Homo sapiens: one gene and its partner. The protein of the gene in region 1 interacts with the protein of each later gene in a biochemical or structural test. Each region holds a gene or a part of one and is shown in the gene's direction. Other genes may lie near its edges.

Region 1 (3,909 bases):
CAGTCTGGTTGTAGGCAAGGGTTGCAATTTTCCCTCTGGAAAAAACAAATCAGAAGTTAGTCCATTTGTATAACACTGCTTAGTAACTGTTTAGAAATTATATCAGTAACACTAAGAATAAGCTCAAGCTATCTCCTAAGTGACCCAATTTATTGACTTTCAGGACAAACAGTATATGAAATCAATTCTAATTTCCATATATCAAGAAATAACAAGCATGTCTTATTTCAGTAATCTTTTATAAACTTTCTATATCTTAGGGTCGTAGGTTATAACAGATGCATAGTATTTTAAAACCAAAATAAATTTACCTTTAAGTGGCCTTAGTATAAGCCATAAGAAAGGCCTGTTTCAAAACTACTAACAGGAATTTATCAGAGTAGGAGCTCAAACTACTGAAATACGATTTTAGAAGGACTTTTATTTTGGAAAAAGAATATAAAACTGGAATTTGGGAAGAAAGGGTTAGATAGTGGAAAGCACCCCAGATTGGATCCGAGTCCTTATTCTCAAACTACCTAATGAGATGAAATTGTGCAAGTGATTTAAATTTGATGAGATTCATCTGGAGATCTATTAATGAGTTTAAAGTCTTAAAGTGCTTACTGCTTTCTGATTAATTTTATATTAAAAGTCCTCAAAGCAGAAAGAATGTCAGATAAAAAAAAGTATGTGAGATCCAAAGTGGACTTACAATCACATGCATGAAGAAGTCATGTGTATACAACAGCCCCTGGGGAAAATGTTAAATATGTCATGGGGGCTCTACATTTAGCTGAGGACTGGGCCAAACATCCTAGCAGATTCTTTTCAGTTATTCTGATGTGTCATCTCTTTGGGGAAAAACCTAACTTCACTAATATCCAGGCTCAGGAAGTGAAAAAGACAGAAGCCTTACCTAGCCACTGTGACCAGAAGTGATTAATTTAATCAACTGCCCACCTCAACCATCACCAACTTTTGCAATCACTTGGCGAAATCAATGTCCAACAAGTGAAGCAAACCCAAATGTGGTGAACATTCCTCCATTGCCAAAATGGGACAACTGCCTTATCTCCTCATCAAAGCCCATCTTCTGGGAAATCAGCTTCTCTGTTAAATACCCAAGTGGGCTAGAAGCGCATTTTGTGGGCAACCCTATAGAAGCTCGTCCTGATGCCAACTTGCAGGGATCCAGTAAACCTCAAGTCACCGCTCCTGATAACGTAGACATCTTTTTAGACACACTATTTACACAGACTTTGTCTAGCTGGGGAAAAGGTTAATTTACTTGTATACACGGGGATAAGTAGAGCACAGCGCTTCTGGATGCCCTCAGACTTGCATCTAATTCTTTCTCCAGATCTAACGCCTCTGTTTCTACACCCAGGGGAACCTCTCCCCAGGGACTGCGCGCGCGTGCGTGCAGGTGTGTGTGTGTGTGTGTGTGTGTGTGTGTTTGTGTGTGTTAAAACGAACACTAATTCCGCGCCCAGCTTCTCTCTCCGTCCACCTGCGGCCCAAGAACTTGTGTTCCCAGATGGTACCAGCGGGGCCCGGCTTATTCCCGAACACATGTGGGGACCTGAAAGGGGCGTCGGGGACTAACCCGCCCAAACCGTGGCAAACACTCTGGGAGGCCGACTTGGGCTTGGCCTGTGGCCCGACACACCGCCCCACTCCGCGCACACGCGTCTGTGCCACTTCAGTGGCTTGCAGGACCTCCGGCGAGGATGAGTCTCCAAACCATCTCAGCCTACTCAACGGCATCTGGGATGTCCCCCTGCCTCTAAGTCAGACCCCAAGAAAGATCTTTGAGGACTTGAGCTTCACGTTGAAAATCAGTGTGGAAAATGGGGGTGTCAGTGCGGCTGGGGGAGACAAAGGGGCCCAAAAGCTCCCTCCCGTCCGCTCCAGCCCACTTAGTTCACCCTCCCACGGGGCGAGGGGCGGGCCGGGGGGCTGAGGTGGGGATGGCCCTGGAAGGGGTCCCTCCCTTCCCACCTCCTACGGCCCACTCTTACTTACTTTCTTTCGGAGCCTCAGCTTGGCCGCCTTTAGCCCAGGCAGTGCGGAGGGGAAGCGGGGAGGAGAGAGGAGCCTGCGGGCTGCAGCAGCCGGGCAGTCCCGGAATCTCCGGACTGCGTCCCTGCCCCAAGCCCGCCGGGAACCCGGGCCGTGGACGCCCCCACCCGGGGGCCGCGGCGAGGCGGGCGCGCGGGGTTCAGCACCCTCGAGGCTGGTTCCGAAGGCTCGCGGCCCTCCCCCTCCGTCCGCCGCCGTCGCGGCTAGCCGCCCCTCCCCGCCGCAGCAGGGAGGCCGCCGGGGCCCGGGGGACGCGCTCGCGCGGGGGCCGCCCCCTCCCCTTCCCTCCACCCTGGGCGGGGGCGCGCGAGAAGCGGTGACGTCAAGGGGCGCGCTGTGGCAGCACCTCCCCGCGCGCTAGTTAAAAAGAAGAAGAAAAGAGGGAACGAAACATGAGAGGCTGTGTGAGAAGCTGCAGCCGCCGGCAGAGGAGACCTCAGCATCATCTAGAGCCCAGCGCTGGCCCTGCCTCCGCCTGCCCCGCCGCCGCCGTCGCCGTTTCTGTTCCTGCTACTGTCCCACCTAAACAACTCCCGTTACACGGACAAGTGAACATCTGTGGCTGTCCTCTCCTTTTCTTCCTCCTCTTCCAACTCCTTCTCCTCCTCCCACTTCCCAGCCGCAGCAGAAAGCCCCCAACCCAACTGACACTGGCACAACTGCAAACGGTGTCATCCGCACAACTTTATCTCGCTCCTCGGGCTCCCCTAAGGCATTGGACCCATCGCCGCGTCTTTTATTTTTTGCAAAGTTGCATCGCTGTACATATTTTTGTCCCCGCCACCTCCCTCTGTCTCTGGAGTGCCCTACAGCCCCGCAAACTCCTCCTGGAGCTGCGCCCTAGTGCCCCTGCTGGGCAGTGGCGTTCCCCCCCATCCTCCCGCGCCCAGCCCCTGCTGCTCTGGGCAGACGATGCTGAAGATGCTCTCCTTTAAGCTGCTGCTGCTGGCCGTGGCTCTGGGCTTCTTTGAAGGAGATGCTAAGTTTGGGGAAAGAAACGAAGGGAGCGGAGCAAGGAGGAGAAGGTGCCTGAATGGGAACCCCCCGAAGCGCCTGAAAAGGAGAGACAGGAGGATGATGTCCCAGCTGGAGCTGCTGAGTGGGGGAGAGATGCTGTGCGGTGGCTTCTACCCTCGGCTGTCCTGCTGCCTGCGGAGTGACAGCCCGGGGCTAGGGCGCCTGGAGAATAAGGTAGGCACTCACCGGCTTCACGGATGCGTACTTGGCATATTGGCTGGGTGGGGTTCCCTGTGGCTCTGGCAAAGCCGGTGGTTGTAAGAAGGTCAAAACTTCTTTGGGGGAGTTCTTTCCATAACTTTTCTATAGCGCTAACGTGATTCCGTTGTGTGTTCCTCTGGGGTAAGCAAGTAGCATTTCCTCCCCCAGAGTCCGCGGTCGGGATGCTGTGCAAACTTGCCTATCTCTGAAAACAGACGTTTCTGCGGTACCCGCACCCTGGGCTGGGTAAATATTTTAAAAGAATCGCGATGAACAGTGTGTTTTGGATCGAATGGGGCATTGGCTGCGGTGAAACTGTAAATTAAGGTGGCTGTGGTTTCCGGCTTATTTTTCTAGGGTAAAAAGATTTGTGCTGTTTTCTCCACGTGCTCGGTTAGGGAGAGGATTGAATCGTAAAGGATGTTGAAGCATGGTTGGTTTATGATCCCCAGCCCCGTCAGAGGGGGGTGTCTTGCATTACATTAGTTAAACCAACAGAAAGGAACTCCTGGTCCTCCGGTTAGGGACCTGAAAAAAACTGGCGAAAGATTTTGCTGGGGCGTTATTTATCACATAAAACTGAGACGATTCTCCGTCATTTTGTAACATTATAAATTCAGACTTTCA
Region 2 (3,909 bases), on another chromosome or scaffold:
GAGTAAAATAAGTGGCTGGCTGACAAGGATTTTCATTTCCTACCTGAGAGAAGAATCTAGCTTTTTACTAGAGGCCATCAGTTTCTTGAAAAGCCCATGTGCTATGTTGGGAGTAAGAGCGCAAAACTTAGGCTTATACAGATTGTGTATTGCACAGCTTCCAGGGACACCATTCACCTCATAGTCATTGTGTGGATAGTTACTATGATAGTTTTCTAATAAATGTCAGTCATCTTGAGGAAGGGGTGCTTTTTTTTTCTTTTTTCTTCTTCTTTTTTTTTTTTTTTTTTTTGTGAGACAAGGTCTGGCTCTATCACCCTGGCTGGAGTGCAGTGGTGCAATCTCAGCTCACTGCAACCTCCGCATTCTGGGCTCAAGCCATTCTTCCAGCTCAGGCTCCAGAATAGCTAGGACAACAGACACATGCTACCATGCCTGGCTAATTTTTGTATTTTTAGTAGAGATGGGGTTTTGCCATGTTGCCTGGGCTGGTCTTGAACTCCTGAGCTCAAGTGATCCACCTACCTTGGACTCCCCAAATGATGGAATTACAGGGGTTAGCCACAACACCCAGCCATCTTTTTTTTGGGGGGGGGGGTCCTCACTCTGTCACCCAGGTTAGAGTGCAGTGGCATGATCTTAGCTCACTCTACAGCCTTGAACTCTTGCACCCAAGTGATCCTCCTTCCTCAGCCTCCTGAGTACCTAAGACTACAGGCATGTACCACTACCTCCCACTAATTAATTTTTTTTTTTTGAAACGGGGTGTCACTATGTTGACCAAGTTGGTCTTCAACTCATGGCCTCAAGCAGTCCTTGCCTCGCCCCCAAAGTGTTGGGATTACAGGAGTGAGCCACTGTGCCTGGCCTGGTTTTTTCTGATGTACACAAAGTTGCTATGAGTACTAGCCATAGAGTGTGGTGAGGGGAGGGTGAATATGAAACACAAAGTGTAGATTCCACAAATGCTTGCAAAGCACCCTTCTGTAGAGTAGGCACTTAACCTTGGAGATACATGATAAATATGTGTGTGCTTAAGATTGCTTTGTCTAGTAAGGTGCCAGATAATTCTAATACTGTTCTAACACTGCAGTTAAGTAATGGTTCTCGAGGGAACACAGGTGGGCAGTGTTGGGACATCAAGGAAGGCTTCTTAGAAGAAATGACTTCTAAACAAAAGAAATTGGACGTGGTGCCTCTGAGATGAGATCTGAGTGGCTGAAAATGGAGCCCCGGGAGTCCAGAGAGGGAGAAAGCTGGAGAGGTGCCTAGATGGACGGTTAAGGGAAGTGATCCTCACCTCTTACAAAGACTTTTGAGTGTCCACTGCCCTTCAGCAGCTTCCAACTGAGAAGTCATTCATTTGAAAAACAGCAGCTATTAGATGCCTGGCAAAGAAGAGAAGGGGAAAAAAGTTGGAAGTCCTAAATGAGACAATAAGTACCAAGCTCTGTTCCTGGTTCTGGGGAAGTTCCAAAGGAGACTGCAAAGTTAGTAGAGAAATGGGCCCCTGGTATCCTCACCTCCCAGTCCTGCTTAATGCTGAATGTGAGGAGAGATGGAAGTCGGGGAGATCTGGGGAGGACTACAGAGAAGGGAGGCTCTGGTTGTATGCCCAAAGGGCTTGGCTGGTCTTGGGCAGAAATTGGAACCCATACTTCCTGGATGACAGCGGAGGGCATGGCCTGCCAGGGTAGGCTTTGAGAGAGTAAAAATTCCAATTCAAGTATCAGAGGAGGGTGGTTTGGTTCCAAGTTTAAGCTTGGAGGTAGAAGGATGTTTAGGCAGCCAAGGACTGTAAAGCTACAAGTATTTCCTAGGCAGGTGTCTGCCTGGTTTCCAGGATGGGACACACTTCAGTCGCAAAATGGACCAGCAGTGACCGGCTAGATCCCCCGCCCGGGTGGGAGGGGGTGGGACGGTCTTGGGAGAAGGGCGGAGGGCGGGGCCAGGGGCCACTTAAGGCGGAGTCCGGAGTCCGGGCGTTCTGGCAGCACCAGAGTCCTGCAGCAGAGACGGGCTGGGCTGGCACTCACCCACGACCCCCCTTCCCTGCTATGATGGTTTGTCAGTAGCAGGTCCTAGACACCCCCCGCCCGCTCCCGGGGCACGTGGGCAGAGCTAGCAGCAGCCAGGTGCACGGAGCCACAAGAGCTCTAGGGCACTCTGGGGGCAGCTGTGCCTGCTGCCCTCTCTGGTGCCTGTGGAGATGCCTAACTGACAGGAGAGTTAGTGAGGACAAGAACGCTCCCTTTTGGCCGAGGTCCGCTGTATCCATGGCTCTCCTGACCAATCTACTGCCCCTGTGCTGCTTGGCACTTCTGGCGCTGCCAGCCCAGAGCTGCGGGCCGGGCCGGGGGCCGGTTGGCCGGCGCCGCTATGCGCGCAAGCAGCTCGTGCCGCTACTCTACAAGCAATTTGTGCCCGGCGTGCCAGAGCGGACCCTGGGCGCCAGTGGGCCAGCGGAGGGGAGGGTGGCAAGGGGCTCCGAGCGCTTCCGGGACCTCGTGCCCAACTACAACCCCGACATCATCTTCAAGGATGAGGAGAACAGTGGAGCCGACCGCCTGATGACCGAGGTAAGGAGGGCCTCTCCCTACCTGCGCCGGGGCACTGCCAGCTCCTCCGTTTTCCTATGGCAGCCCAGGTGGGTGAGTCCAGCTTCACCTACAGAGAGTTTAGCCTTAGAGATTTCCCTTGTCACCAGCCCCAGGGGGGGGAAAAATCCTTGCAGTCTGGACAGAGTAATTAGGACGGCTCCCGACTAGAATAGTCTGGGATGGGGAGGGGAGGAGGGACTGACTAGTGAGAGTGAAGCTGGTAGAGGCAGCGAGGGCGGGGAAAGGAGGATGGCGGCAGGCGAGACGGGAAATGGCTGAGGCGTGGACCGGGGGTCAGCCACCCAGCCAGGCAGGAAGGGCTGGGGTGAGCTGGGGGCCAGGAGCTGGCTAGGTAGCAGACAGAAGCCTGGCTCCTGACCTGATTGTAGAAAAGCTCTGTGGGCCGAAAAGAAGAGACTGAAAAGGGCTGGGACAGGGGTGGCCAAGGGTCAGGTCACCAGACCATCTACCTGAGGAGGGGCTGGGCAGACATTGCTTTTGGCATGGGAAACGTGTCCTAGAACCAGGACACATCTATTCTAGGGTCTATTCTAGGGCTATCCTAGGGTCTAAACGATAATCTTGGGGTTAAAAAGTAATCCTCAGTGAGAATAACAGATGGACCCACCTGAGAATCAGAGGGCTCCTAAGTCTTCCAAGCTCTGCCTATCTCAGGGGCTTTCCTTGGAATTACATAATTAGGATAAATTCAACTACCATTTTTGAGCATTGGAACCACCTAGAGTGAGGTGGAAGAGAAGGACCACCTCTGGCGAGTGATTTATTTTTTATTTTTTGTAGAGACGGGGTCTTGCCATGTTGCCTAGGCTAGTCTTGAACTCCTGAGCTCAAGGGATCCTCCCACCTCGGCCTCCCAAAGTGCTGGATTACAGGTGTGAGCCACTTCATCCAGCCTGGCCAGTGATCTTGAATGTTAGAACTGAAAGAAAACTTGAGAGATGACATTCCTCCAACCCTCCCCACCCCCACTGCCACCCTCATTTTACATCTGAGAGCTGGACTTCCCCCAGGAGGAAAAGCAATTTAAACTCTCACAATTTAAAGTGGCATGGCTGGGACTAGAATTCAGGACTCCTGATTCTAAGCCCTATATACTTTCCATTACACCACCTAATTGTGTATGGAGTGGGGAGGTGGGGGGAGAGGGAGGGGTACGGATTTCCTCTGATTAATTGCCATAGTTTTCCAGGTTACTTTGTTAGGAAAACCTGTCCAGGGAAGAAATAATTCCTTTTGCTTCTGCCCTGAAGCCTTCCTCCTACCTAGAGATGGGAAAAGGGGCATTCCT

The links.
Region 2: the proteins of HHIP (region 1) and DHH are reported together in a solved structure, tested with the Homo sapiens proteins (one study listed by IntAct).

The regions. Positions count from the first base shown.
Region 1 is NC_000004.12:144,643,700-144,647,608, forward strand, and holds the start of HHIP (hedgehog-interacting protein precursor), read left to right. Parts: upstream 1-2,456; 5' UTR 2,457-2,976; coding exon 2,977-3,255; intron 3,256-3,909. UniProt on the Homo sapiens protein: Modulates hedgehog signaling in several cell types including brain and lung through direct interaction with members of the hedgehog family.
Region 2 is NC_000012.12:49,092,880-49,096,788, reverse strand, and holds the start of DHH (desert hedgehog protein preproprotein), read left to right. Parts: upstream 1-1,987; 5' UTR 1,988-2,276; coding exon 2,277-2,579; intron 2,580-2,600; exon of another isoform or gene 2,601-2,667; intron 2,668-3,370; exon of another isoform or gene 3,371-3,540; intron 3,541-3,872; exon of another isoform or gene 3,873-3,909.